Homo sapiens: one gene and its partners. The protein of the gene in region 1 purifies or fractionates together with the protein of each later gene. This does not show direct contact. Each region holds a gene or a part of one and is shown in the gene's direction. Other genes may lie near its edges.

Evidence for each region.
Region 2: the proteins of LGALS12 (region 1) and LIMD1 purify together in Homo sapiens (affinity purification with mass spectrometry; 3 studies listed by BioGRID and IntAct, with this or other methods). This does not show direct contact.
Region 3: the proteins of LGALS12 (region 1) and RIMS1 purify together in Homo sapiens (co-immunoprecipitation; one large-scale study listed by IntAct). This does not show direct contact.
Region 4: the proteins of LGALS12 (region 1) and CSPG4 purify together in Homo sapiens (affinity purification with mass spectrometry; one large-scale study listed by BioGRID and IntAct). This does not show direct contact.
Region 5: the proteins of LGALS12 (region 1) and ITGA5 purify together in Homo sapiens (affinity purification with mass spectrometry; one large-scale study listed by BioGRID and IntAct). This does not show direct contact.
Region 6: the proteins of LGALS12 (region 1) and SLCO4A1 purify together in Homo sapiens (affinity purification with mass spectrometry; one large-scale study listed by BioGRID and IntAct). This does not show direct contact.
Region 7: the proteins of LGALS12 (region 1) and ATP13A3 purify together in Homo sapiens (affinity purification with mass spectrometry; one large-scale study listed by BioGRID and IntAct). This does not show direct contact.

What each region holds. Positions count from the first base shown.
Region 1 is NC_000011.10:63,512,351-63,516,493, forward strand, and holds part of LGALS12 (galectin-12), read left to right. Parts: intron 1-631; coding exon of another isoform or gene 632-638; exon of another isoform or gene 639-1,975; intron 1,976-3,212; coding exon 3,213-3,363; intron 3,364-3,896; coding exon 3,897-4,043; 3' UTR 4,044-4,143. UniProt on the Homo sapiens protein: Binds lactose. May participate in the apoptosis of adipocytes.
Region 2 is NC_000003.12:45,670,902-45,675,044, forward strand, and holds part of LIMD1 (LIM domain-containing protein 1), read left to right. Parts: intron 1-1,788; coding exon 1,789-1,919; intron 1,920-2,552; coding exon 2,553-2,604; intron 2,605-3,441; coding exon 3,442-3,510; intron 3,511-4,143. UniProt on the Homo sapiens protein: Adapter or scaffold protein which participates in the assembly of numerous protein complexes and is involved in several cellular processes such as cell fate determination, cytoskeletal organization, repression of gene transcription, cell-cell adhesion, cell differentiation, proliferation and migration.
Region 3 is NC_000006.12:72,175,907-72,180,049, forward strand, and holds part of RIMS1 (regulating synaptic membrane exocytosis protein 1), read left to right. Parts: intron 1-3,668; coding exon 3,669-4,009; intron 4,010-4,143. UniProt on the Homo sapiens protein: Rab effector involved in exocytosis. May act as scaffold protein that regulates neurotransmitter release at the active zone.
Region 4 is NC_000015.10:75,691,946-75,696,088, reverse strand, and holds part of CSPG4 (chondroitin sulfate proteoglycan 4 precursor), read left to right. Parts: intron 1-2,855; coding exon 2,856-3,019; intron 3,020-4,143. UniProt on the Homo sapiens protein: Proteoglycan playing a role in cell proliferation and migration which stimulates endothelial cells motility during microvascular morphogenesis. May also inhibit neurite outgrowth and growth cone collapse during axon regeneration.
Region 5 is NC_000012.12:54,394,818-54,398,960, reverse strand, and holds the end of ITGA5 (integrin alpha-5 precursor), read left to right. Parts: intron 1-262; coding exon 263-364; intron 365-1,473; coding exon 1,474-1,596; intron 1,597-2,584; coding exon 2,585-2,668; 3' UTR 2,669-3,700; downstream 3,701-4,143.
Region 6 is NC_000020.11:62,641,001-62,645,645, forward strand, and holds the start of SLCO4A1 (solute carrier organic anion transporter family member 4A1), read left to right. Parts: upstream 1-1,502; 5' UTR 1,503-1,553; intron 1,554-4,645. UniProt on the Homo sapiens protein: Organic anion antiporter with apparent broad substrate specificity.
Region 7 is NC_000003.12:194,431,319-194,435,461, reverse strand, and holds part of ATP13A3 (polyamine-transporting ATPase 13A3), read left to right. Parts: intron 1-1,565; coding exon 1,566-1,690; intron 1,691-3,569; coding exon 3,570-3,745; intron 3,746-4,143. UniProt on the Homo sapiens protein: ATP-driven pump involved in endocytosis-dependent polyamine transport. Uses ATP as an energy source to transfer polyamine precursor putrescine from the endosomal compartment to the cytosol.

The sequences.
Region 1 (4,143 bases):
TGGCCGGCCTGCCTTGAGGAAACGCATTAGAGTTTATGACTTCTCTGGGCCAGAATGCCTGGGTTGGCATGTGCTCAGGACACCTACTTGTGCAACCTTAGGACAGATACTTTTCCTCTCTGTGCCTCTGTTTTCCTCTCTGTAAGAAGGGGATGATAGGCCGGGCGCGGTGGCTCACACCTATAATCCCAGCACTTTGGGAGGCCGAGGCGGGTGGATCACGAGGTCAGGAGTTGGAGACCAGCCTGACCAACATGGTGAAATCCTGACTCTACTGAAAATAGAAAAATTAGCCGGGCATGGTGGCGCATGCCTGTAATCCCAGCTACTCAGGAGGCTGAGGCAGGAGAATCGCTTATACCCGGGAGGCAGAGGTTGCAGTGATCCGAGATCGCGCCACTGCACTCCAGCCTGGGCAATAGAGCAAGACTCCATCTCAAAAAAAAAAAAAAAAGATAGAGGGGGTTGATAATAATGCCGACTTTAGGGGTGGTACTTAGAATAGTGCCTGGTACATGGTAAGTGTCCACAAATGTGGGTACTACTGCAATCATCTCAGTGGAGGTAGGGGAGGGCAGAGTAAGGAAAGCACCCTATGTTCTCCTTGCTTAATTTTGTTTTTATTTTTAAGTCACTGACCTCACTAAACCCTTGCCCTGCACACTGCCGATCATGCCTGTGAATTCTGGGACAGGCATGAAGCCCAGCACTCGATGGCCTCGGCCTCCAAAGACAGGCATGACTGAGTTGGATTCCTGGTTTTGTCTCTTATAAACAGTGCGGTCGTGGGCCAGTCACTAAACCTCTCTGAGTCTGAGTTTCCCTACCGGAAAAAGGTGAATGATAATTCCAACCTGCTAGGGAAAATGAAAAGTGCTCAGTGATGGAACACTTCTTCCCACAAAACTTGGAGGCATGAGACCGGGTTCATATTGTAGCTCAAAGTCACAAGGTTACTAGTGACATAGTCAGCAAGTAACTGCTGTTTCCCAAGGGCCATGAATGCATGTGTCCTCAGAGGCCAGACAGGTCTCATAAATAGTGAGGAAACCAGTTGGGAAGGTGGTAAAGGGGAAGGAGTATCTCCATACACCCAGTCATGCCAGATCTTCTGACTATTTTTAAAGCAAAAATAGAAGCCATCTTTTATATAAACTCTCTCAATTTTTGAATATTATATTAAAGTTGAAGAATACTATGGACCAGACAAAACATTCCTATACACCAGTTCAGCCGAGATCCACCAACATGAAGATTTAGCACAGCACCTGGTATTTAGCGAGGCTGCAACCAATGCAGCTGCTGCTATTTTGTGAAAGCAACTGATGGCTTGAATGGGGCAGAGAGAGTAAGAGATGGAGGGCACAGGATTCATCTGCAGTGAAAATCTATCCCTCCTTCTTCACCTCATCCCTTCCCTCCTCGTTATTGAGTGGGAGTGTATGACTGCAGCCTCAAAGAGCTTCAACAGAGCTTCACTGGGCATCTGGTGATTTGTGATTATTCAGTGATCTAGTGGGCATCTAGTGATTCATGATTATCCAGTGATCTGGCGGGCTGAGCTGCATGAAGGTGAGGTAGGGAGACACTGAGGCCTCCTCACCAGGAGTTCGCAGGCCAGAGGAAGACACAGTGTTGTCTGGCAGGACGGGGTAGGGGGAGCCATAGTGGGGCTGGAGGCTCCACGCAGTCCACTCTCCAGGGTTCCTGCCTTCCAAGCTTCTTCCCAACATTGGGCCCTGGCCACCTCCTTCCCAAAGTTGGAAACTTACGGGGCCTCCTCCTGTAAGGATCTACCAATAGCCCTTGAAAGGCCTGTCCAGGGCGGCCTTTTCCCCTACCTTACCTGCCTCTGCATCCCATCAGGATGCCGCGCCTTCTCCAGCATAGCTCTTCAAGAAGGAAACTTGGGAAGTTCCCAAGACATAAAAATAATCTGGGCCGGGCGCGGTGGCTCAAGCCTGTAATCCCAGCACTTTGGGAGGCCAAGGTGGGCAGATCACAAGGTCAAGAGATCGAGACCACCCTGGCCAACATAGTGAAACCCCATCTCTACTAAAAATACAAAAATTAGCTGGGCGGTGCGGGCATGCGCCTGTAGTCCCAGCTACTCCGGAGGCTGAGGCAGGAGAACTGCTTGAACCTGGGAGGAAGAGGTTGCAGTGAGCCGAGATCGTGCCACTGCACTCCAGCTTGGTGACAGAGCAAGACTCTGTCTCAAAAAAATAAAATAAAATAAAGAAAAATAATATAATCCGGTTGCCCTATTTGAGAGGCAGGTGCCAGATCCCCCCACCCCCAAATCTAGAGTCATGAATCCTAGTTCACATCCTAACCTAAGGCCCTACCACTATTACTAGTAACAGAGAAGTCATTTAACTTCTTGTCCTCATCACTTAAATGGGCTGACAAACCTCACAGCACAGAATTTGTGAGGATTAAGGAAAGGCAAACTAGCTTCTGTAAAACACCTACTGTGTGCTAGGAATTGCTAGTTTTCACATACATTATCTCCTTTGTTCCTTTTTTTTTTTGGCTCTATGAGGTAGAGATTGTATTATATAGCAATATTTTTAAACAATAGGTATCATCTGAATGCTTATTACGTTCCAGGTGCTATTCTAAATAAGCATTTTTTTATGTATTCATTTAATTCTTACAACAATGCCACAGGCAGGTACAGGGCAGTTATGTTATCGTCACATTACAGATGAGGAAACTGAGGCACAGAGAGATTAAGAGTCTTGCCCAAGGTCACAGGACTAGAAAGTAGCAGAGCCAGGGTTGAATCGGGACTGCCTGACTCTAACCACTATGCTGTTTGGAAAACATTTAAGATAATACCTGGCACTTAGTTAGCATTCAATAAATGTTAGCTGTAGCTATCATCATCATAATCATCCCCATTTTCAGGAGGAGAAACTGAAGCTCAGGCTAGGCAATTTTCACACACTTCCCTCCCACCCCCATCCTCCTGTAGTCATAGATGGCAACCCTGGAGGTCAATCTCAAGTTCATCTAGAACTCGTGTTCTTTCCACTGTTCTGAGCATTCAGCCATGAGGCTGTCATAGGCCCTCAGTGCTTGTTTCTGGAGGCTGAAGCAGCTCAACCTTCCATCCACTCCCTGACCTCCATCCTTCCCCTGGGGGCTGAGCAGCGGCCTATGGGCAATGGGCGCTGATTCCTTCTCCTTCCTCCTGCTTCCTGCAGTTTTACTGTGAGCCTGAGGGACCAGGCTGCCCATGCTCCTGTGACACTCAGGGCCTCCTTCGCAGACAGAACTCTGGCCTGGATCTCCCGCTGGGGGCAGAAGAAACTGATCTCAGCCCCCTTCCTCTTTTACCCCCAGAGATTCTTTGAGGTAGGTCAGAGCCAAATGATTACATCCCTTCAGGCTGGAGCACAGAGCTGAAGTCCCATAATGACCTGGGAGATGCTGGGGCAGGTGTGCAGGACAGATGTTATGGGGTGGGAGGCCAGAGCCAGCAGAGCACAGCGAATGTCTGTACAGCAGTCCTCAACGCTCCACTCTGATGCCAGGGATCCCATGGCCAGAAACTCAATTGATGCAGGTGGGGGGGGGCCCAGGCATCAGCTTTATTAAAAAGCTCCCCTAATGATTCCGACGTGCAGAACCACTCCTCTACAGGAAGCAGCCCCAGTTACAGGTGGTGAAACTGAGGCCCAAGGCTGGGAAGATCCTTGTCAAAGACCACAGTGGGCTGGTGACAAGCCGGGCCCCTTATCCTGTTCTTTTCCAGCACTGTACTGGGTGCCCCCTGGGTCCAGTCTTCGTGTCCTATGAGAGGAGGAGGGTCTCACTGGAGAGAGCGTCAGGCAGACAAGGGAAAGTCTGGCTGGAAGCTGCAACCCCCTCATGTCCTCCTTTCCCAGGTGCTGCTCCTGTTCCAGGAGGGAGGGCTGAAGCTGGCGCTCAATGGGCAGGGGCTGGGGGCCACCAGCATGAACCAGCAGGCCCTGGAGCAGCTGCGGGAGCTCCGGATCAGTGGAAGTGTCCAGCTCTACTGTGTCCACTCCTGAGGATGGTTCCAGGGAAATACCGCCAGAAAACAAGAAGGTCAGCCCACTCCCAGGGCCCCACTCTCCTCCCCTCATTAAACCATCCACCTGACACCAGCAC
Region 2 (4,143 bases), on another chromosome or scaffold:
TAGAGGGGTACATTCTGGGCTTGCAGGTTAGAACCAGGCATAGTCTCACATAAAAAAAGTATTACAGCTAGTCACAATGCAGCAAAATGGCATCTTTTTCTAATCTTACTTTAGGCACAATGTGGATTAAATTAATTTAAGGATCTCTTTCTGCCAAGACAGCATTCATCTTGGGGAAAATGCATTCCAAGGTCCAAATTGCCAAATGGGTTTTGGAAGCCCAGCCAGTTGTTCTTCCTGTTTTGCCTTACTGCAGATTGAGAGGGCCCTCAAAGGTTAGGGAAACCCAAGAGGGAATGAGGAAGCTTGAAAGCTGAGCATTCAGAGGAAAGCTGGAATAGCACAACGCCCTCCTCTTGCCTTCTTGGCTGGAGCTTGTGCAGTGTGGAGTTATCCGCCTGAGGCTTCCAGGGGAAGGAGCTGTAACACAGCATATCTTTACCCCTGGGTCTCACAGTGTACTGACAAGGCTTCCCCAAATCCAAAATCCCCTTTCTTCAGCCTGTTTGAAGGCTTTCTGTGTGGGCTCCCACTGCTGGATGCTGATGACCGTTCTGTACATTCTTTGCAGATGCATGTTTTGGTGTGACCTTGCTCATGTTGATTCTGTAGTTCAGTTGTTTTTGCTAAGTTTCATGATGCAGGTAATTGCAGAAATGAATCTCCTATTAAGTCAGTGAAGATGCTTTCAACTGCAAATTATAGAAAAAACCCAGACTCAGTTCGAGTTAAACCAATGATCCTCCAACTTTAATATATATCAGAATCACCCTATTAAAATACCAACTGCTGGGCCTTACCCCCAGAGTTTCTGATTCAAGAAATCTGGGATGGGGTCCAAGAATGTGCATTATTAACAAGTTTGCAGGTGATGCTAATGCTGAAGGTCTGGGGCCACACACATTTCGAGGACCACTGACTTCATAGGAATGATATTTTATCTCACCTAAAAAGAGGCTTGGAGGTATGTGGTTCCATGATGAGTTAATTCAGTTACTTACGGACCTCACCAAGGATGTTCTTTCCATCTCTTCTCTTTCCTGCTGTCCATGTCTTGGGTCTGTCCTGGTTTCAGGTTGGCTCTGGCAGTTCCAGGTATCCCATCCAGATCCAGATTAAATGACACTGAGAGGAAGAAGTTTGTGGGGCTTTCCCTCTATTGCGTTTAAAAACAACAACAGAGAAACTTTACTTATTACACTTGGATTTGAGGTCATTGGGTTGAGTCAGAACTTCTAGATTATCATGCTCCAGAGTCAAAGCTGCATAGAAGGGGCATCCAAGAGGCAGAAGTGAAGGGGTTCCTTTTGAGCTCTGCCATTTCCACATGGAATTTCTTTTCATTTTTCCGAGTACTTGCTGCTTCCCAAATCTGGGAAGGATGTATCCTTCTGTGGCCCTGCTTTGCATCGTTTCCCACTTCTTCGTGGTGGATTTTGGCCCTGGGATTGGCCCATCCCTTCCTTACCATCTCTTTCTCTTAAAGAACTATGCAAGAGTTTCCTGTTCTGGGTGAGGGTTGGAAAGGAGCCCTCTTTCCCTGCCAGCTCAGAGACCCTGTGAGAGGCTGCAGGAGAAGGATTCCTGTGTGGTCTCTTCTGTGTATTCATCTAAACAGATTTGCCTTTCCCACCCCATCACCTCTTGCTCTTCTCCTAGGTGAAACTCGGGGGTAAGTGTACTCTGTGTGTGACTGCTCATGTAATCCTTAGGCCTGATGTGTTCCTCTCCCCTTCCACCATCTCATCCTTCCCTATAATCCCCACTGAGTCTTGGTCTCTGCTCCAGATCCTGCAAGCCCTGGGGAAGTCCTACCACCCCGGCTGTTTCCGCTGTGTCATCTGTAATGAGTGTTTGGATGGGGTGCCCTTCACCGTGGACTCAGAGAACAAGATCTACTGTGTCCGAGATTACCACAAGTAAGAAGGGATGGGAGCAGACAGGACCCATTCGTGTAGGCCAAGCTGATCTCAGCAGAGTGAGTGGTGGAAACCGACAAAACTGTGTTTGCCAGCCGCCCTTAGATCACAGTCCAGCAAAGGCTTAATGGTTTTGAGGGGTACAGCAGGGACCTTGGGAGGTTGGTCGATGCCAGTGTTGACAGGAATGGGTTAAAGAATCATGTTTAGTGAAAAAAAAAAAACAACAGAGCACAGAAAAACTAATAATCATATTTGTAGCTAGGCCTCGGGAGGAATCCACCAAGCCCTGTGGCTTCAGCGTTACCTAACTTCACAAGGCCCCTATGCAGTGCTGGTTCCTACCACTCTTGGTTTGCCTGGGCCTGTGCTAGGCACCATGAGAGGTGTAAACAAATCAGTTAGTGCTGTCCCCAGAAGAGTGAGAGGCAGCCAGTGTCCTCATTGCAGCTGGGGAGCAAATACTAAGGCATATTCCACAAAGTGAGCCAGGTACCAGTCATTCTATGAGGGAGGAGAGCAAGGGGCAGGAGGCGGCATGGAGGAAGGCTCCATGTGGATTCCAAGTGCAAGTCTGACTCTGGAATTTGCTCCCAGAAGCAACATTTATTGCTGCTTTGTTTCTCCCCACAGGGTGCTGGCCCCCAAGTGTGCAGCCTGTGGGCTTCCCATCCTTCCACCTGAGGTAAGATGCCCTTCCAGACATGCTCCCAGGGGCTTCTAAGACATGAATATCTCCCTGGGCTCATTTACAAGATCCATGTCCTGTCCTTACAGCTTTTAAGGTATCCTTTTAAAAATCTCAACTCTGGCCTGGTGCAGTGGCTCACGCCTGTAATCCCACCCCTTTTAGGAGGCCCAGGCAGGAAAATTGCTTGAGGCCTGGAGTTTAAGAACAGCCTGGGCAACATAGCAAGACCTCATCTCTACAAAAAATTGTTAAAAATTGGCCAAGTGTGGTGGCATGTGCCTGTAGTCCTAGCTGCTTGAGCCCAAGAGTTTGAGGCTGCAGCGAGCTATGATGGTGCTACTGCATTCCAGCAGGTGACAGCAAGACCTTGTCTCCAAAAAAAAAAAACCAAAAAAAACCCCACTTCACCTTTGAGATAAGTCGTGTCTTCACCCTTCCTTGTTGACTGGCTTCCCCAACCCAGTACCCTTCTTGTGCTGATTTGTCCCCATAACCAGGTCAAACTCCCTTACTTGATACTAATTCTTAGATTAGCAGATGAGGAGAAAGGCTTGTCTTTTCTTCATTTTTTAAAATAAGTGTCCATGTAGGTCTTTCTTTCAGTGTTAACTCTGACATTCTAGAAGGAAGGACTCCTATCCCTCCTACTTCCCCTCTCATCAGCTTAAATGTATTCTTCTTCCAGTAAGTACTCCTGATTTACCTTCTCCTCCCAAGGCCACCTACTTGTTACCCCCAAAACCCTCTTCCCTCCCCACCCCACGGTACATCAAGCCCGACAGCCCCCCTAACAGGCCTCTCCTATGTGTTCTTGCTTTTCTCTGGTCCCAGGGCTCAGATGAGACCATCCGTGTCGTGTCCATGGACAGAGACTACCACGTGGAGTGTTACCACTGCGAGGTAGACCCCTCCCCACCCAGCCCCCAAAGCCCATTGTAGACATCCAAGAGAAAAGCATCCTGCGTTGACTGGGGCAAGAGGCAGTCAACAAGATTCTGGCAAGGGTCAGCCCTCTAGAGCTTCTGTAGGAAATGGAATGAAGGCTGGTTCTTGGGGGAGGTAGGAGAAGATGGAAATGCTCAAGGTATAAAGGTCTTTCTTCTGCATATTCAGAACTATCAAGTCCTGCAACTGTTGGAGCTGCTCTCCCTGAAGCTGCAGAGCTAGGAGGGTCGTGGAGAGCATGGGTTTCAGGTCCTATCTGCGGGCCACATTGTCAGGCAGGTGTGCGATTTGGGGAAGGGACTCCCTCCCCTCCAGCTTGCAGGCTGTTCTATCTGCCTGAAGCTCCTTTCTCAGCTGAGCCCTGGAAATCATGAAGCCCCTCTTGGAAACAGGCATGTCAGCTGGTGGTGTGAAGGCGGGTGGGGTCCGCCTGCCCCTTCCTGCCCTTTGTCCCAACCCAAGATGAAGGAGCACTAGTACCTGATGACTGTCAGGAAAGCTAGAGGTTGCCCCTCACCAACCCTTGTGAAGGGTGACCATGGAATTTCAGCCACAATTAAGTGAATTCACCCATGGAAGGAGATTAGA
Region 3 (4,143 bases), on another chromosome or scaffold:
TAAAAAATTCCTATGGGTTTTATAAAATAGTTTATTGTACTTCTTAAGAATTAAGAGGAAAAGACAATTAAAAATGCAGTTACAGCAAAAGGTCAGAATACAATTTTCAGTCCTGCATATTTTCTGATATGTGGCATGGTGTTTCAAAAGTCATGTAACTTCACGATAGTATTTGAATTGAGTTTGTGTGTGATTGCTTAACATCTGTAAATTGTTAAGATAAGTTATTGCACAGGCCTACTTTAGTTTAGATTAGTTTGGAACACATCCCAGGGTATTTAATCAGGGTATAATCCTGCATAGTGCAATTTCTAAAAGGTGTGTTTGTGTGCTTTAAATAAATAGCATTTTTTTGTAGGCAAAGTTACGTCTTATCCTCTTTTCTAAAAAAAAATCTGTTAAAAATGACTCCCTACAGCACTCTTGTATTATCTATAGCTTCAGGCAAATATAATACTTAATACTGACTTCAAAAAATGTACTGTAGAGGTCTGCAATGTTTGGTATTAACTGTGTTGAAATGTATGACAATATTCTATTGTAATCTTATATATTTTTCTTTATAACTTATATGAGCAATTTATTTTTTATTTGTAAAATTTGTGGTATGATTAATTTGTAGAACTGAAAATAGAGACTGGGAGGTGATATTTTGATAAAAATAAATATTTTAACATTGCCATGGTTAATTTTACTTTCAGTTTGGAGGATGGATTGACTACACTTATAGTTAATTTAAAAATACAAATTTAAAAATGTTGTGGTGTACAAGGAAATAAGACATAGAAAAAGTTTGGAATTATACAGTATTTTACTAAATGTTAAAAACAAAAAAATTAACAAAGCATCACAGACTTAAATGAATACAAAGTATTTTAAGAATAGAATTTAAAATGCCTATGCTGTTTTGACATAGTCACTAATTGTAACCTTTTGAATAAACTGGAAATGAAATTAAATTGTAAAATTCAACTTATTTAATAATAATAAATTGTGTTTCTTTTAATTGATCTGGTAGCAGTTCTGCACATACTCAAAATTTGGAACATGCCCAAATCTGGCAGTTAGTTCTCATTGACCCATTTTTTGTAACGTTTAAAAATGTGAAGCAATCAAAATAAGATTGTGATAATAATTTCTAGAGAATATTCAAATGTAAAATGAAGAGTATCCTTTACCCTTCATCAGTATTATTGTGCTCCTTTCTGCTTCTTTATTTAGCTTTATTCAATTTTAGAAACTTTGTAATTGTAAATTTGTGTTTTCTGGTTTTTTAAAAACTGCATATTTATCCTAAGTATACCTTGATATTTCTGTAGAAAAGAACCTACTTGATTTTATTTTATTTCTTATTATTTATTTTGAGATGGAGTCTCGCTCTATCGTCCAGGCTGGAGAACAGTGGCGGGATCTCAGCTCACTGAAACCTCTGCCTTCCGGGTTCAAGTGATTCTTCTGCCTCAGCCTCCCAAGTAGCTGGGATTATAGGCATGCACCACCATGCCCGGCTAAGTTTTGTATTTTTAGTAGAGACGGGATTTCACCATGTTGGCCTGACTGATCTCGAACTCCTGACCTCAGAAGATCTGCTCCCCTCAGCCTCCCAAAGTGCTGGGATTACAGGTGTCAGCCACCACACCTGGCTGAAAAGAACCTACTTTAAATGATGATAATAAGTTGCTTACTATTAGTCTGAGAAATACAAATTTAACGTCTTCTTATTTGATGTAAAATAGTCAAAATTTCATACCAGTCTTGTTGAATTACATGATTTCAAACTTTCTTATTATGGTCTGTCAGCTAAAGAGACAAAAAACAAACCAACCAACCAAAACCTTCCCACCACACACGTCCTGTCCCCACTCAGGGTTCTGGGCAGAAGAGACTCAGTGTCACTGACTGTTCATGAAGGTCCTGGCCCTGGAGTACTGCACCTTTTAATGTTACCCTTAATATGTCCATGTTCAAACAATCAGGACTTCTGAGGGACCTACTCAGTAATAGATTTTGTAAAATATACCCTTATTTGGCTAGCACTTAAATTGAAGTTACTTTCCATAAAATCCTTATTTTGATATAGGTTTATGCAATGAATTGTTCATCTTGTTTGACATCTTAGTAGATGAGAATTCCGTAATATTGGTTATAATACTTTGTGTAGACATTATACCTAACTGCTTTTTTGAACCTAGTACACTTCATTTTATGACTGGGAAAGTCTAAATAAATCAATTAACCTTCATGAATTTTAAATTTTTTATAGCAAGTATTTCTCTTCAGTCTTAATTTTTCCTATATTATAATTCATTTGAGTTTTCTTTCCTGGAAAGCAGTTCTTAATTCACCTGCAGTATTTTCCTTTTAAAAAAGTGTATTACTTTTTTCCTGTCTTTTTCTTATTCTTATTTTAGCTTCATCTTATTCTATGGCTACAGTTACAGTTTTTCCCCATTTATCTGAATATTTTCAGTAGTTCATTTTCTTCATTTGACCTACTAAACAATGCTTCTTTTACTATTTTCTATTACTTATCAGTTAATGTTTCTACGATTTATTCATCCTGATGCAATATTTTTGAGTACATGTTGATTGAGTCAGTATTTGTGAAAAGGAAGCCTAGAGTTTGGTAATTAGTTTTTCCTGTGGAGGTAGTTTCTGAAGTAGAAACAAACACAAAACACCTGAAGTGCTTTTGGAGGCATGTAACTGAGGCAGCGATGTAAAGTCACAGCACAAAGAAACAGAGGTACTGAGGATATTTGAAAAGACAGCTCATGGAGCTGTTAGCACCTATCTTTGCCCTGTGACAGCTAGTCATTGCTGCTATTATTATTTTTTATTATGATAATCGTCCTCATTATTACATTCATTTTAAAGGTCATCAAATGGAGAACAGACATATAGTTTATTTTAAGTGGTGCTACATCTTATAATTTATCAGTGGATATGTTGCTAAATGATGGTTCCCCAATAGCTCTCCTTGGGGAACATTACATTGGAGTGGTCACATATGAATAAACTCAGAGTCACATTTATTGCTTTAGTAAATATGTGCATGGAAAATTATATTTTATAGCATAAATAAGCTTAAGGTTAGTTTATCACTAAGAAACTAGAGAAAATATACACATTGACCTTTTTTGTGTGCTTACTTTGTATGTTTCTTCTATGTGAATATTTTTAATATTGCCTTTAATTGTGGGTGATTTTTGAAAAGACAGACTTTTTAAAAATACTTGCAAGTACTGAGGTTTATGTATTTACGTACTGATTCTGTAGTTCCTGGTAACATTTTTCTTTTTTTTTCCTGGTAACATTTTTCTAATCAGTTAACTACCTTGCTTAGAACATTTTTGCTAACACTCCAGAGTCAATTATAAAAAATATGACAGATATATGGTAAAAGGAAATTCAGAATAATCAAATCAGAAATGCTGAGAAAAAACCTCTACTCTGGCTGCTGAGAGGCTCTCTAGTCTCAGACAAGTCCCTGTCTAGGCATTCATATATTTGACTGTGACTTGTGGGAGGACCATTTTCACAAGAAATTTGCAAGGATAAATATGAAAATGAATACTGTTCTTTTTTTCTTAAATATATTTTAAGATACTGAAAAATTATTTCCAAGAGGGCATAAAAATTTATATTGTTCTTTCTTCTTCAAATAGGTTATGTGGGTATGCAATTTATGTCGAAAGCAACAAGAAATCTTAACCAAATCTGGGGCATGGTTCTTTGGAAGTGGCCCTCAGCAGACAAGTCAGGATGGAACCCTGAGTGATACAGCTACAGGTGCTGGCTCTGAGGTACCAAGAGAAAAGAAAGCACGACTCCAAGAGCGATCGCGGTCTCAGACACCCCTAAGCACAGCAGCTGCCTCCTCCCAGGATGCTGCTCCTCCCAGCGCACCACCAGACAGGAGCAAAGGGGCTGAGCCCTCGCAGCAAGCCTTGGGGCCTGAACAGAAGCAGGCTTCATCCAGGTCTAGAAGTGAACCTCCTAGAGAGAGGTAATAGTTCTTTCACCCTGTAAGCAAAAGGCAAGATTTTGCTAGGAGAGCAAAGCCGTTTTCAAGAATTTAACTTCTATTACGAGGAATATGTGGAAGTAGTACTTCTCAGGCCCCACATGGAAAAACAAAAG
Region 4 (4,143 bases), on another chromosome or scaffold:
CAGGTTTGGTCTGCTGTTTTGATGAATCATGGGTCCTCTTGACCCAGGAGAATCAACGGCAGGTCTGATCCAGCCTGTGCCAATGTCTCCCCACAACCTCCTCCATCCCCCCGCCCCAGTCACGCAGCCGAGCCTAGCTTGACCCATTCTACTTTTCCCTCTACTTCTCTTCCTTCAAGTTAGCCAGAGGCTTTAGCGGGTGATGGAGCAGAAACCCTCCTAGCCCCACCCAAAGGGGACCTGTGTACTTCCTGCCAGTCTCACTCGGCCTTGCTGCTGTCCTCTGAGACTGCCTATTCCTCCCTCTCTGTGTCTGTACACCACCGTGACCTCCTCCAGGAAGTCCTCTGGATTGACTCCTAGCTTATTACATCTTAATTCTGCACACCCTCTCCATTTGAAGCCCCTCTTCAACTGCCCCCCCACCACCTCCAAGACAGGGATTCTGAGTTCTTGCAACTGAAGCCCCTCAGAGAGTGTAAGAGGGGCAGAAAAAAGGAGACCAGGAGGTGGAGGGAGTGGCGCTGTCAGAGTTTCCAGAGCCCTGGCCAGCAAGGCCTCAGAGGCCTCTGTTGGGGTGGGGGGCTGCCTGGCCACGCGCTCCAGCAGCACAAGACAGCCTGTGTGAGCCCCTCCCGCTCAGCCCCACAGGAAGCAGCAGGGCCCAGCCCCTCAATGGACCCATTCAGACCCCAGCGCTCTGGAAAGTACCTCTACTTCCTGCCACCCTCCCACTCTGGCCAAACAGGCTCTACTCTCCTCTGCTGGGAGGGGGCTGCAGGCAGGTGGTTCAGTGGTTAGGGCCAACCATCTAGTTCAGTTCCTGCCTGGCCCAGAGCCCTGATGTTGACCATGACTTGGCGGGTCTACATATACCTTTAGTGCAAGGGTGGGTAGGGGCAGGGACATGTGCCCCCTTCTCTGTGGGTGCTGGATAGGTAAATGTTTAGCAATGGGCTTTCTTGGGGAGGGGGAACCCTGATTTGCAGTATTTGCCTCTTTTCCTGGTATAAATGTTCTCACTGTGGGCAGTATCACCTGGCTCTCAAAATTCCTGAAAATTCAACAGTAGACTCCTGGCAGCTGCTGTCAGCCGCTCCAGCAGGTGACGGTGGTGGCTCTATCCTGCAGGGCCATGTGCCCCCACCCCTTGTGCTATGGCCTCCCTCACTTTAGTGTGCTGTGTTTTGCTCTTAGGAATCAATGTCTTTGCAGATAAGGCACCCCGGTAGGTGGCCGCCACCTGCAGTTCCCTGGTCTGTCCCTTGCTGGCGCCAAGCTCTGCTGAACCAGCTGGGCCGCCCCCGCGCAGATGGTCTGCAGGGCTCCCTTGATTCCCGTAGCTTCCCAGACAAGGTGCTGGTATTGCCAGCAGTGCTGGCAGGAGGAGATAACTAGAGGGGATTTAACTCAGCCCAAGGGGTTCTTACGGGATCTTTCTTGGACATCCCTCCCAGTGGGGCTGGCTGCCCTTAGGGTGTACAAGTCTCCGACTCCTCCAACGGCTGAAGCTGCTTACTCAGGCGGATGGCAGCTGGCTCAGGCTGGCCAGGGACCAGCACATGGGGCTGGTGCCGGATTATCCCTATCAAGGCCGTCAGCCTGTGCTCGCTCTCGGGTTTGAGGGAAGCCCAACAGGAATGAATCACCGTTTTTAACCCGTGTTTCTCTACCCCCCAGCCCTGGACATCTGCAGGCAAAGTCAAAGTTATATTTGGCTCTTATCACCACAAAAGGCATGGACCAGAAATTGTGGCAGCGGGTTGGAAGTCAGGGAGGCTAATCTGGGGAAACTGACTGGAGGAAGCAGCAATTCAAAAGAGGAGGAGTCCCAGTATGGGACAGAACGGGCCCTGCATAGGAACCACTAACCCCAGGCAAGCCCAGACATGGCCTTCTGCCTGGGGAGGCCCTCTTTGGCCTGCCCAGCAGACCCTCAGCCCCTCCCAAGCCCTGTCTTCAGCCTCAGCCTGCGTGGTGGCCTGGGGAAGTTAGGAACTCAGCTGTTCTCATCCCTGGTTCCTTGGCCACGGTGGAAACAATGGGGCCGGATCTGACTGCTCATCGGGGACTGTGAATAGCTCTCCAGCAGGAAGCAATAGCAAGGGTAATGGAGGAAGTGTGGGCCCACTTTGGTTTGACACTGCACATGGTCCCCATCTGGCCTCAGAGCCTTTGCTCCTTGGCAGACTCAGGCCAATAAGCTCCTGCCCCGACGCTCAATGGCAGCTGGAAGAATGGCCTGAGAGAGAAGCGGGGATAGGTGGGCCATGCTGACACCACCCCCAGATCCCAGTCGTGGCCTCAGCCAACCCATGGAGGCGGGGCATGGCACAGCAGGCGCTGCACAGGAGCCCAAGCACAAGGGCACTTAGGAGAAGGAATCTGAGCAGGGATCAGTCTGGACTGGGGGTGATTCTCCAGAAACTCCATTCCTTGGGGCTGTGACCACCAAGCCAGATGGTCAGGCCAGTTGCGGTTCCCTTTGGGCTGGGTCCAGGAGCCAGACCCACGAGGGAGACTCCTCTGGGGCCCAGGGGAGGCGAGTCAGAGCTGGCGGAGGCCTCTGGCTCCAGGAACCTCCAAGGAGGAGACCTGAGTTGCTGGGAATTTCTGGGTCTGACCTCCTGTAAATACAAGATCTGGGCTGGACACAAGGTGAGCCTGTGCCTTCTGGTGCCAGGACCAAGAAGATGCTGGGACCCGGGCAGTGCTCAGAGGCAGCACCATACAGCAGAACCATGAGGGTGCGCCAGCACGGACCCCTTTCTGCAACCCACCCGTCCCTCTTTGCGGCACCTCGCCTCCTCCAGGCAAGAGTCTGAGCCTTGACCACAGCTCCCTCTCTCACACAGCTTCCTTCTTCGGTGAGAACCACCTGGAGGTGCCTGTGGCCACGGCTCTGACCGACATAGACCTGCAGCTGCAGTTCTCCACGTCCCAGCCCGAAGCCCTCCTTCTCCTGGCAGCAGGCCCAGCTGACCACCTCCTGCTGCAGCTCTACTCTGGACGCCTGCAGGTGAGTGACGTCCCCCTGAGATCTGGGCGGGATTCGGGGTGGGATTCCTTCTCTAGCTTTGAGTGAACCCCAGCTGGCTGTGTGACCTTGTGTAAGTCACTTTTATCTTGGGGTCTTAAGTTCTCCACTGTGGGATGGGCAGCAGCAGCCCAGAAATGGTAAATCCTTCATGAACTGGCTCTGCCCACTGGCTCCCTCCAACCATGTTTCCCGCCACAACCCCTCGCTGGCCCTTTGTGCTCTGACAGCCCTGAACTGCTTTCAGTTCCTGGCCATCTTACAGTCGCTTGCTGCCAGGCTCTTGATGCACACTCCTTCTGCCAGGTGTGCGCCTCTCCCGTTCCCTGCACATGCCTAACTCCAGCCTCTCCTTGAAGTCTCAGTGTGGGCATCCCCTCCTCCTGGGCTAGGCCCCCTCCTGAGCCCCCATGACCCCTGTGCATCCCGGTGGCACTGCACCAATTTCTCTGCAGCACCATGGTCTGTCCACGACAGTAACAGCACCAGTACTGCCTCAGCTTCCTCATTTTTCCATTTCATCCTTCAAGACACCACAAGCTTTGTTAGCAAGGAGTCTTGTGGCTTTTTTGAGTCTTCCCCTAAACCATGAAGAGTTTAAGAACCCAGGGTCTTATTCCGAATTTGTGCCAGGCTGGGTGCAGTGGCTCATGCCTATAATCCCACCACTTTGGGAGGCCAAGGTGAGAAGATCACTCGAGCCTAGGAGTTCAAGTCTGGCCTAAGCCACACAATGAGTCCCCATCTCTATTTTTAAAAGAAAAAAATAACCGGACGCGGTGGCTCATGCCTGTAATCCCAGCACTTTGGGAGGCTGAGGCGGGTGGATCACCTGAGGTCAGGAGTTCGAGACCAGCCTGGCCAACATGGTGAAACCGTGTCTCTAATAAAAATACAAAAAAATTAGCCGGGCATGGTGACACATGCCTGTAATCCCAGCTACTCAGGAGGCTGAGGCAAGAGAATCACTTGAACCCAGGAGAAGGAGGTTGCAGTGAGCCGAGACCGCACCATTGCACTTCAGCCTGGGCAACAAGAACCAAACTCCGTCTCAAAAAAAAACAAATTTGGGGCAGCCATCTCCTTCCACACCCCATGGGGAGAGG
Region 5 (4,143 bases), on another chromosome or scaffold:
GGCTGAGGCAGGAGGATTGCTTGAGCCCAGGAGGTGGAGGTTGCAGTGACCTAAGCCCACACCACTGCACTCCAGCCTGGGGGACAGAGTGAGACCTAGTCTCAAAAAAAAAAAAAAAAAAAAAAGAGAGAGAGAGAGAGAGAGACTCAGGAAGAATGAGCCCAAAATAGGGAAAGATCACAACCCCAGCCAGACGATGGGGAACCCTATGTCCTCTGGATCCCAAGAGAGGATGTGCTAACCAACTTTCCCCTACCCACAGCGGGAGCACCAGCCATTTAGCCTGCAGTGTGAGGCTGTGTACAAAGCCCTGAAGATGCCCTACCGAATCCTGCCTCGGCAGCTGCCCCAAAAAGAGCGTCAGGTGAGTCTAGGGCCAGAGGACTGGATGAGGGAATACAGGGCTCAGAGTGCTGGAACAGGGCTGGGACTTGGGTGAGGGCTGGCCTTGGTATTGTTAACAACTGTTGAGAATGTACTATGTGCCAAGCACTGTGCAGATGCCAGAGACAGAGTGGTAAGCAAGATCAACATGGTATCTTTGCTCCTGGTGTTCACAGTCTCGTGGAACAACACAGTGTTCCAAGTGTGGTGATATTTATGAAAACACATAATAGGAACACCTGAACCCAGTCTAACTGGGTCAGGGAAGGCTTCCTGGAAGAAGTGATGTTCAAGCTGAGACCTGAAGAATAAATAGGAACTAACCAGGCTAGCCATTCAGGAAAGGGATATCCTGGGGAGAGGTGAATAACAGATATGAGGCTGAGCGCAGTGGCTCACACCTGTAATCCCAGCACTTTGGAAGGCCAAGGCAAGTGGATTGCTTGAGCTCAGAAGTTCAAGATCAACCTGGGCAACATAGTGAGATCCTGTCTCTACAAAAAATACAAAAATTAGCCAGATGTGGTGGCGCATATCTGTGGTCCCAGCTACTCGGGAGGCTGAGGCAGGAGGATCGCTTGAGACCAGGATGCAGAGGTTGTAGTAAGCTGAGATCACACCACTGCACTCCAGCCTGAGTGACAGAGTGAGACTCTGTCAAAAAAAAAAAAAAATGGATATGATATGAAAGCCCGAAAGTAAGAGACAATATTGTACATTTTAGGAACTTCAATTTTTAAGTTCAGAATGCTGTTAGTTCAAAATAAGAGGTGGAGTTGATCTGGAACCCAGACTCAGACATTGGCACCTAATCCAGGCAGATCCAGGACTATATTTGGGCCTGCTCCAGACCTGATCCTGGAGGCCCAGTTCACCCTGATTTAGGAGAAGCCAGGAATTTCCCAGGACCCTGAAGGGGCCATGATGGCAACAGATCTGGAACCTCAGCCTGGCCAGACACAGGCCCTCCCTGTTCCCCAGAGAAAGGGGAGCCCACTGGGCTCTGCAGATCCAATGACAAGTGGGGGCCAAGTATAGGGTAGAAAGAACTTCTGAGCTTTCATTGACTTCACCCAACTTGCTCCCCAGGTGGCCACAGCTGTGCAATGGACCAAGGCAGAAGGCAGCTATGGCGTCCCACTGTGGATCATCATCCTAGCCATCCTGTTTGGCCTCCTGCTCCTAGGTCTACTCATCTACATCCTCTACAAGGTCAGCCACATCCTGCTTGTGACTTGGCCACCCTCTCATCAGGCTCTGCCCTTGACCTGGCACAGTCCCAAGTATCTACCTCTAGACCAGTTCACCAGCCATGTGCCCCCACCTCTGTCCTGGCTACATGCATCCCATCCTAACCCTTCCTATAAGATCCCCCCCTTCATTCTATAGCCCCTAGCTTAGAAAGGGTCCTCTTGACTCAAGATGATAAGTTTGCCTATACTTGCAAAATCATTGGAACCCAAAGATGACAAATACGTGGCATTTGTGCTGTCAATTTCTCCAAAAATCCATGGCAGCCATCACTAACCTAGAAATGGCTACTGATCATCTCCTAGAAGTGGCTTCAGAATCTCTCTCAAGAGGCAGCCATGGCCAGGTGTGGTGGCTCACACCTGTAATCCCAACATTTTGGGAGGCCAGGGTGGGAAGACAGCTTGAGCCCAGGAATTCAAGACCAGCCTGGGTAACACACTAGGACCTTGTCTCTACAAAAAAAACACAAAGATTAGCCAGGTTTGGTGGTGCGTGCCTATAGTCCCAGCTACTCTGGAGGCTGAGGTGGGAGGATCGCTTGAGCCCAGGAGTTTGAGGCTACAGTGAGCCATGATCATGCCACTGCACTCCAGGCTGGTCAACAGAGTGAGACCCTGTCTCAAAAACAAACAAACAAACAGAAGCAGCCACTACTAAGCAATCAGACTTGGCATTTGAGTTCAAACCTATCTGCCATTTCTGGCTTAACTGGGGAATTTTAAAGGCACTGGTAAAAGATACCCCCCATACAAAATCACCCCCAAGTTTGGTCCTCCTGGGTCCATTGCACAACTTAGAGGGGTAGTCCTAGCCTGAATTCAGAGGCCACTTTTGCAGGATGTAGAGGTTGGAGGCACTAGAGTCCTCCTTATTACTTCTTGGAATAAGAGCTGTGGAGAAATGGCAGCCATAGTACCTAAACTCTCCCTCTTTTCCCCTTTATCAGCTTGGATTCTTCAAACGCTCCCTCCCATATGGCACCGCCATGGAAAAAGCTCAGCTCAAGCCTCCAGCCACCTCTGATGCCTGAGTCCTCCCAATTTCAGACTCCCATTCCTGAAGAACCAGTCCCCCCACCCTCATTCTACTGAAAAGGAGGGGTCTGGGTACTTCTTGAAGGTGCTGACGGCCAGGGAGAAGCTCCTCTCCCCAGCCCAGAGACATACTTGAAGGGCCAGAGCCAGGGGGGTGAGGAGCTGGGGATCCCTCCCCCCCATGCACTGTGAAGGACCCTTGTTTACACATACCCTCTTCATGGATGGGGGAACTCAGATCCAGGGACAGAGGCCCCAGCCTCCCTGAAGCCTTTGCATTTTGGAGAGTTTCCTGAAACAACTTGGAAAGATAACTAGGAAATCCATTCACAGTTCTTTGGGCCAGACATGCCACAAGGACTTCCTGTCCAGCTCCAACCTGCAAAGATCTGTCCTCAGCCTTGCCAGAGATCCAAAAGAAGCCCCCAGCTAAGAACCTGGAACTTGGGGAGTTAAGACCTGGCAGCTCTGGACAGCCCCACCCTGGTGGGCCAACAAAGAACACTAACTATGCATGGTGCCCCAGGACCAGCTCAGGACAGATGCCACACAAGGATAGATGCTGGCCCAGGGCCCAGAGCCCAGCTCCAAGGGGAATCAGAACTCAAATGGGGCCAGATCCAGCCTGGGGTCTGGAGTTGATCTGGAACCCAGACTCAGACATTGGCACCTAATCCAGGCAGATCCAGGACTATATTTGGGCCTGCTCCAGACCTGATCCTGGAGGCCCAGTTCACCCTGATTTAGGAGAAGCCAGGAATTTCCCAGGACCCTGAAGGGGCCATGATGGCAACAGATCTGGAACCTCAGCCTGGCCAGACACAGGCCCTCCCTGTTCCCCAGAGAAAGGGGAGCCCACTGTCCTGGGCCTGCAGAATTTGGGTTCTGCCTGCCAGCTGCACTGATGCTGCCCCTCATCTCTCTGCCCAACCCTTCCCTCACCTTGGCACCAGACACCCAGGACTTATTTAAACTCTGTTGCAAGTGCAATAAATCTGACCCAGTGCCCCCACTGACCAGAACTAGAATCTGTGATCTCATGTTACTCTTTCCAAACCCATCCTGGAACCAAGCGACTTGGTGGAAAGCAGATGCCTATTTCTCTCATGGCTTCTTTCCACTAGGAGCCAGAAGTATGACCCCCCAGAAACTGTGAAACTAGTTCTAGGCTCCCTTCTTAGGTGAAAGAGGTGATGGAAGGAGAGAAAGCAGGGCTTGACTCCTCTGCCCCTCCCTCATCCCCCATCAGACCTGGTCCCCAACACTCCCAAGGGAGAAGGGAAAGGAACCTCTTCTCTTTGGGTTTGAGGATTAGAGCAGAATGCAAAGGGGGAGGTCCAAGGTGGAGGTGGGGGAGGATGGTTCAGAAAATTTACCAGGCTTCCCTAAATCAGAATAATGAAATGAGTTGAGAGGAAAAAGCCACGGAACTAAATTAGAAGAAAGCCCAGTTAGGTTTTTGTATTGCTTT
Region 6 (4,645 bases), on another chromosome or scaffold:
GCAGCGAAGCTCATCCACACCTGAGGCCAGGTCTGCAGCGAAGCTCAGCCCCCTTCCTTCACAGGAGAAATACTTCTGGGTGTGCACCTTCCACTCCTGGCAGGGCCGTGAGCCCCTGTGGCAGTGCCTCACCCTCTGGGAGGGACCCTCTCCATCTGGGAACAATGTGGGTACTTTTTTCTCTTAAAGGGCAGTGTCAGGAATGAAAGCAGATACCCAAAAGCAGTGGGTCTCGTGGCCTCGTGTCTGCTTCCAGAAGTGGAGGGCGGCCTGGGACGGCGGGAGCCCTGAGGACACCACCGGGGGGGTCCCGGGACCTGATACGAGTGGGCAGGAGCCCCAAGCCCTGGAGGAAGGAAAACCATTTCATAAATAACTGCATGGGGTTGTGGGCCTTTTCTCACAAGCCGCAGCACCTCCTTCGTCTCTCCACGGTGAACCCGCCCGCCACGCTATGCCACCAGGCCAGGTCCTGCAGCACCGCCTCCGTGGCTAGGACTTCCTCACCAGCCTGGGGCCGTGAGGTGGTCATTTCCCCCCTTACCTGACTTATCTCAGGATTCACACACACACACTTGACTTTCGGAAACTTCTTTTAAATTAATTTCACTGACACTAAAAGGGAAGCTTTGTGGAGTGTGATTGTGGTTACCTGTTAATACTTGGCAACAATTATGAGCCCTGATATGAGCCAACTTCTTCCGTCTTATCCCCTTTGAGGACGCTCTGTTATCGCCCCCATTTTGCAAACGAGGAAACTGAGGCTCGGAGGCCTGGAGCAATGTGTTCCAGGACAGACGGCAGGAAGCCGGGGTAGGAATTCCAACAGGGAGTTCCCTCTGTGGAAGGGAACGTGGCTGGCACCTCCCTGCCTTCCACCCTCAGAGCTAGTGTGAAAAAGAAGACGGGGTTATGGAAAAGGCAACGGGCTGGAGATTCCCCGGATTCCCAGGCTAGGGCGCCGGTCTCACTGTGCGCGCAGGTGGGGCGCGTGCCAGAACAGGGCCTGGGGGTCAGGCCGAGACCGGCGGGCACCTTCACCAGGGCCGCCCGTGGCGTTCCCCCAGCCCCTCTGCCGCGGGCCCCACGTGGCCCCGACCCTGCGGCAGCCTTTCGGAAGGGCGGAGCTGAAAAACGGCCGCTTGGCTCCACTCGGCCCCACAGCGCCCAGGAGCGAATCCCGAGTCCGTTCGGAACCGCCTCGCCGCGTGGCCTGGGGCGGCGTCGCCACCGCGCGTTCTCGGCCTCCCGGCTGCGGCAGCGATGCCGGTCCTTGGAGCTGGAGCGGGGAGTCCAGGAGGCGGCAGCGCTCCGGAGAGAGACGCCCTGGTCCCCCGCCGCGCGTTCCCGCCTCTGTGCCCTGGGGGGGAGGAGGGGGCGGTCGCCGCTGCCATTGGCCGTGGGGGGTGAGGCGGGCCCCGCGCAGGAAACCCCGCCCCTCCCTCTGCGGCGGGGGCGGCCCCAGCGGATGAATGAAGCGGCGCGTGGCTGCCGGGGAGGCCAGAGCGTGGAGCGCTGCGCGGCGCGGCGGCCGGGCCCTCGAGACGGGGACGGTGAGTGCGCGGGGAGCGGGGAGCTGGCGCGGGTGCACAGGGCCCGACCTGCTGGCGTAGGAGCGCGGCAGGTGCCGCCATCGTGGGCAGGGGCTGGAGCGCCGGGGGGATGCGCGCGGGGGCGGGAGGCCTGGGCACCGGCCGAGCGCCCCGAGCCTCTCCGCGGGGGAGGGCAGGACCGAGCGGAATCGGAGGCCAAATTCGCCGCTTCCCGCCGCCGGCTGCGCAGGTAGGAGCTCCCGAGTCGCCCGCAGGAGGACCGAGGCGAAGGGGCCCCACGCTGCAGCGGGTGCCGGGGGGAAGCGGGTGAGCAGGGGCTGCGGCCCTGGCAGGGACTGTCGGAGTGGCCGGGGCAGGTGACCTGGGCAGGTGGCCCGGAGCGCGCGCAGGCGCAGGCCCCACAGATCCAGCTGGGGACGAACGCGCCTCCGCGGAGCTCCAGAGTTGCGGAGTCACCCACCTGCGGCGGCCGCTGCTGCCGAGTCAAGGAGGAAACCTTCATGCACGGAAGTTTCTCGGGGGCGGCCGGGCTTTGTTCGCGCCAGAGGCGCTCGAGACATCTCCGGGAGGGGAGCGCGGGCGGAGCGCACAGGGCTAGTTTCCAGCAGCGGCGGCGCCCCTTTCCCTGCCCCACCACGCGACGTCCTGGCCGTGGCTTGGGGGGACCCGGGCGCCCTCCAGGTGCAGGCAGAGGGTCGGGTGCCCTCGCGTTGCTGTTGGGCTCCCCTGACCAGGGAGGATGGAAAGGAAGGAGCAGGCAGGCTTAGCTGCCCTAGACCGGCCCTAGACCGGGAACCTGGAAGCAGATCTGACTTCCACTTCCAAGGGAGAAACCGCCTCCCGCACTGGCGCCCCGAGGGGAGAGAGAAGCCCAGCTAGGTTTCCGCGTGGTCCGCGTGGTTGGTGAACCCTCAGGCTGGGGGGTGCCCCGCTTGGCGTGCAAGGCCCTCTTTGGAGCTGCCGTGGGACCTGGCTATGCGTCCTGTTTCTGTCTGGAGGCGGCTGGAACGCGGTAGTTTTCCACATCCATGCAACCAGCTTGTCAGCTGCTGCTCCTCAGCTGTGGTTTTTGGAACTTGGGTTACCTCCATCTAATCAGAAACTGGCTCTGCAGAGCCCGGTGTCAGCGACGTTTTCATTCCCAGCAGCGGGAGCAAATGGATCTCAGAGGACAGCTCCTTGGCCTTAGCCGGCTCCGCTTGTGAATCTGGTAATAATGACAAGGACAGTGACAGCAGGGGTTAGGTGTTGAGTGCTGGAATGTGCCGGGCATGGTACCCCTGCTTTGAGCATCGTCTCATTCAGTCCCTAGCAACCCCACGAGGTGGCCATTATCACTCCCACTTTATAGATGAGTAAACTGAGGCACCAAGAGGTTAAGTGATTGACTCTAGGCCACACAGCTTGTAAGTGCTGAAGAGGTCTGACTCCAGGTTTGTCTGATCCAGGCTTGGGCTCCTGTTTTACGACTCTGTTCTTAAAGAGGCAAAAGGCGACTGCAGGGTCAGGCCGGAGACCCAGAACAGCGTCCCAAGAGCTGGGCCTGCGGTTACTGGGCCAGAGTGTCTGTTCTGGGTTGTCAGTGATCGCAGGACACCAGTAGGATGTTGCTCGGGCCGAGACCACACAGCCCGACTTCCCTCTGTGCTGCTGGAGGGAGCCAGGGCAGAGGCCGGCCACTCGGTGAGACCTGGACGCTGACCACAGCCAGGCTGCCCTGACCGCCCTCAGCAGGCTGTGTCCTGCCTTCCTGCTGGGCAAGGTCAGCAGGTGGTGCCTGGAAAATTCTTCATGAGGGAGCTTCCCTCCCGAGTGGCCGTGACCTAATCTGTAGCTCACTGGGTGTGGCCCCTAAAGCAGGTGCTGGGCAAGTCCCTCCCATGGTGGAGAGCTGGCTGGGCACGTGGCAGGCAGGGCAGGCTGGGCCAGGTGAAGGGTGGCCAGGTGGATGGACATGCTCTCCTTGCTAGACTAAGCCCAGAGAGGCCGGCTCTCCTCGGGGCTCTGATGGGCCCCTTGGCTTGACCAAGCCCCATTGCAGTTTTGGCTCCAGGTCGGTCTGACTTCCAAATGGCAAAATTTTTCTCAGCCCATTGTAGAATGAAAAGTTAACTCATCGAGCTTAGTATTGTGCCTACAAGGTCTTCGATCCGGATGTCTCCATGAGTGTTAATCCATTTCTGGGGTGGGTACTGCTGAGCCAATATACATTCCTGGCTTCCTGGACTCGTCCACTGGAACGTGTTGGGTCCTGGTGCTCTCCCCAGCAGATGGTTGTAGGTGGTCAGAGATGAGCCACAGAAAAGCCAACGTGCAGCCTGGTGCTGGGGGCAGGAGGGAGCAGGGCCCTTGGAGCTCTGGGAGAGAGCCACGCCAGGCCAGCCCTCCTGCTTCCTCAAGCGGGCTGTGGACAGAGGCCACAAAACGTTCCCTCACGAGCCACATGACTGCCTCATTTGCAAGTGGCAAGGTGCACACTGTTGGCTTTTGGACAAGGACATGGGACAGTCCTCAGACCTTGCTGTTGCCTTCGTTCTGGGACATGGACCACTGTCTGGCCCCCCAGTGAGCTTGCTGAGTGTCAGCTGACTTCAGGCAGGATCTGGGTCTTGCCCACTTGTTGGAATGGGCACGTGGGGATTGCACCCCTTGAACAGGGAGGGAGGTGCCAGTAACTCACATGCTAGGTTAACAGGTTCTGGGTGACTCTGAGCCTTGGCCCTGCCAGGGGTGTGAGGAGGAAACTGGCCCTGCTGCTGGGACAACAGACTCTGGGCGTGTCCTCCTGTGGGCCTCTGCAGAGGAAGCAGACTGGGACTACAAAGAACAACCTGGTCCTGGGGACCCTGCTGCCTTCTCTGGCCCCTGCTGGCCCTTCAGGCTACGGTGAGGGTGAGGGTGCGGGTGAGGATGAGGGTGCGGGTGAGGACCCACCCACACCCGCACCCTCACCCTCATCCTCACCCGCAGCCTCACCCTCAGTCCTCAGACACTGGGGTCTCCGGCTGTCTCCAACCCTTCAGTTCTTTTCAGTAGCCTCCTTCCCACCAGCATCACACAGAATTAGACCCTGGGACTACATTTCTGGCGGA
Region 7 (4,143 bases), on another chromosome or scaffold:
TGTAGAAACAGGTTTTAGCATTTCCCTTATAGCTTAAGCCTTTATATCTTGAATATTGGACTATTCACTAACTAGAGGGTAAGATTTCCTTGACCTGTATCGTTCATACGGTGTGAGAGAGTTAGGAGACGAGCTGAAGCCAGAAACTGGGGCCTGAAGGAAAGCGGCTTAGTGCTTTTGACACATTGTCTTCACATTGATACAGCTTTGGGCTTTGAAATACAATTTCAGGTTTCAAGGCTTTTTCCTGCTGTTAAAACCAGCAGTTTCATTTATATTAATTTTCTCAACTATTCTCTAATATCCTTACCACCCATTGTTAGAAATTAGGTGTTTCAAAGATTTTAGATTTCATAGATACATACTTCAAGCAACTTTTATTGGAATTTTGTCAGAAAAATCATTTGGTTATTCCAAGTCTGAAATTCTAGTCTCTGACCTCAGACCCTCCTCCTTCCCCATTGAGAAAAAAATTTCTATGATATAATTCAGGTAGGTTGAGGTGTTTTTTGTTTGTTTTCTTTTTTTGTTTGTTTCTTTTGAGATAGGATCTCTCTTTGTTGCTTAGGCTAGAGTGCAGTGGAACAAACACTTCTCACTGCAGACTTGACCACCTGGGCCTTAAATGATCCTCACTCCTCAAGCCTTCCAAGTAGTGGGACTGCAGGCACATGTCATCATGCCCAGCTAATTGTTTTTTCATTTTTTGTAGAGACGGGGTCTCACTATGCTGCCCAGGCTGGCCTCAAACTCCTAGGTTCAAGCAATCCTCCTATTTCAGCCTCCCAAAGTGGTGGGATTACAGGCATGAGCTACAATGCCTGACCTGAGATTTCTTAAGAACGTAACTATCACTGAACAGACTTCATCTCTTTTATAGTGCTAAAGCACGTACTATTTTTGTGTGCATCTCTTTGGTTGCATGTCTGTTTCCCCACCCAAGTGTCTTGAGAGCAGAGATCATCCCTTTTTGTCTTTAACCTCCCAGTGACTAGCATAGTGCCTGCTGCATTCTTGATACTCAGTTATTTAAAGAATAGCATCTTGATAACTATATTAGTAATATTTTCAAAGACCCATCTCTGGGTCCCAAGTAGATCTCATTGTTGGATTGCTAATGGTTCTTGTGTCACATTTTCAGGATCAGTAATTGTTTTATAGAATTGATCTGAGACTTGATAATGAATCCACGAAAACTGTATTGAATGTGCTTGTGGCACAGTTTTTTCTTTTTCACTTAACATTTAAATTAGGATATGTTGTAGAGGGCAGTAAAGAATAGATTTATGCTTATTTTTGGATACTACACAAAATGAATATTCCTTAGTATTAGAATTGTTTAGTGTACAGTGACATACATTTCCAAATGATTATTATATTGAGATACTGAACTCTTGAACACACACGTGGTTTATTCAGCATATAAAATGTTTTCATTTATAGATATTTTAAACTGCATTATAACTTATAGACATTTTTAATTGTTTAGATATTTCAAGTTTGTGTACATAAGTTGCTTACTCAATTGACTAAACCATTATGTGTTAAAACTTCTTTTTCTGCAGAGATGCAATTGAGAACAACATGGATTTTATGGGATTAATTATAATGCAGAACAAATTAAAGCAAGAAACCCCTGCAGTACTTGAAGATTTGCATAAAGCCAACATTCGCACCGTCATGGTCACAGGTTAGACTTTATAAAAGAACACAGAAGCAAATGGAGTGTGACAGAGCTGAAGTTATATTATATTGAGGGATAATCAGTTATAAAATCATATTATATAGTCTATAGTGGTTTCAACCTAAGTTCTCTTTTAGCTCTGAATATTTTCCCAAGCGCAAGATAACTTTGTCATATTCTTTTTGAGGTCTAGCGAATCCTATTTATAGAAAGTGTAGTAGAATAGTAAAAGTACGGCCGGGCGCGGTGGCTCACGCCTGTAATCCCAGCACTTTGGGAGGCCGAGGCGGGTGGATCATGAGGTCAGGAGATTGAGACCATCCTGGCTAACAAGGTGAAACCCCGTCTCTACTAAAAATACAAAAAATTAGCCGGGAGCGGTGGCGGGTGCCTGTAGTCCCAGCTACTCGGGAGGCTGAGGCAGGAGAATGGCGTGAACCCGGGAAGCGGAGCTTGCAGTGAGCCGAGATTGCGCCACTGCAGTCCGCAGTCCGGCCTGGGCGACAGAGCGAGACTCCGTCTCAAAAAAAAAAAAAAAAAAAAAAGAATAGTAAAAGTACACTGTAAAAATTTAAACTTGACTCCTTTTTGTTTTCTCTCTTTATTCGTATATTTCTTATAGCACTTATTGTACCTTGTGTTATTTGTAGATTTGTTTTCTGTACTAGAATATAAGATTCTTGAGGGTTAGGAGTATATTTTACTCATGTTGGGGTCCTTTGCAACTTTTAGAACTGTCAGCTACATAGAAAATGATTAATAGATATTCGATAGCATGAAATGTTTATATGTAAGATATTGTTTATTACCCTAGCTTGAATTCTAGTGAAATAGCCTACTTTTTTTTTTCTAGTACATCTAAGGGATTCTCCTGATGTTACTATACTGTTGATAATATTAGATAACTCTTACTCATTAGCTGTGTGAAATTGTGGTAGCTCTGTTTTTTGTTTTTTTTTCTTAGCAGATAATCAGATTTAAGATACTTAATGGCACTTACGTGTTCAGTAAGACTAATATGGAGAAAGTCTGTATACATTTTTGTGTTTTAGACTCTTGAGATCTATCTAATAACATAATTTTACCGTATAACTCAAGGTAACTAAGTCTGTTAGCATTCCAGCCATTCTTAGTTCTTGCGTCTTCTTTGTCAAGACACTTTTCACCTGTTCCTCGTCCTCCTCTTTTATTTATTTATTTATTTTCCCCTTGCCAGAATATGGCTTTGTGTACCAAAGGTCATAGGAAGATATTCTTGGAAATAGTGTGTGGAAATTGAGGAAAGAAATATCTCGCTCTTCTGTTTTGGTAGCAGTGGGATCCACAAACCTTTGTCTGCTTCTCCTTAATAAGATCCTGTTCTTGCTGCTCTTCTTTCTTCTCATGACTGAGAAGTTGTCTCTCTTGTTTCTCGTTTACACCTGTTCTTATTACCTGTCTTACCTTTTTGTTTTGTATGATCTTGCTTTTGTAATTCATCATTTTCTATGATATGGTGCTGGTGTTCTTGCACAGACCACTAGTCACTTTGTAAAGTTATTTCGGTAAGTATTTATTGAGCCACCTGATCTGTGTGTAGCACCGTGCCAGGTATTGTGTAGATACAAATAGTGCATGACTGGAAAAGATTGAGAATTATATTTGGCTTTAAAAATTGTGGGTGAGATGTTTTCTTTAGCATATAACGTGCTTGCGTTATTTGAGGCTTCTTTTGATAAGTATGCTCCAATTTTGTTATTTTTAAACTGTAAGTGGAAGAACCATACATTATCGTTACTCTGCCAGCCCAGTCATGGAGACTGTAGTAGATTCTCAGCAAGTACATGTTTGATACGTTCACGTTTCCATTTTAATTTCAATACATTTAAAATATTTTGAAAATTAGGTGACAGTATGTTGACTGCTGTCTCTGTGGCCAGAGATTGTGGAATGATTCTACCTCAGGATAAAGTGATTATTGCTGAAGCATTACCTCCAAAGGATGGGAAAGTTGCCAAAATAAATTGGCATTATGCAGACTCCCTCACGCAGTGCAGTCATCCATCAGCAATTGACCCAGAGGTAAGGTCAAGATCGACTGTCCGTTTTAAAGTTTGTTGATTTAAATTTAGTCTGAAAAAATAAAAAAAGTGGTGCATTAAAACACAGTAAAGCAAAAACTAAATGAAAACAGAAGTCAGGGCTATTTTTTCAGAGATTATGTTTCATTAGGACTGGGACAGACCCAGGAATCTCAATGTTCAAATTTTGATATTTAGCTAAGATGAGAAGCATAGTTTTAAAGTACAAGAATTCCAGATGTTTATCGTATTCTTCAGGTAACTAGTGGTAAATGATGCAGGTGGTCCATCATACTCAGTTCATGCATCATTTCAAATTGAAGCTGATATTTAATTGAGTTTCTTTTTACTTTGAATAAATGTCCGGCTTTCATCATGTTGTGGAACATATCAAATGAA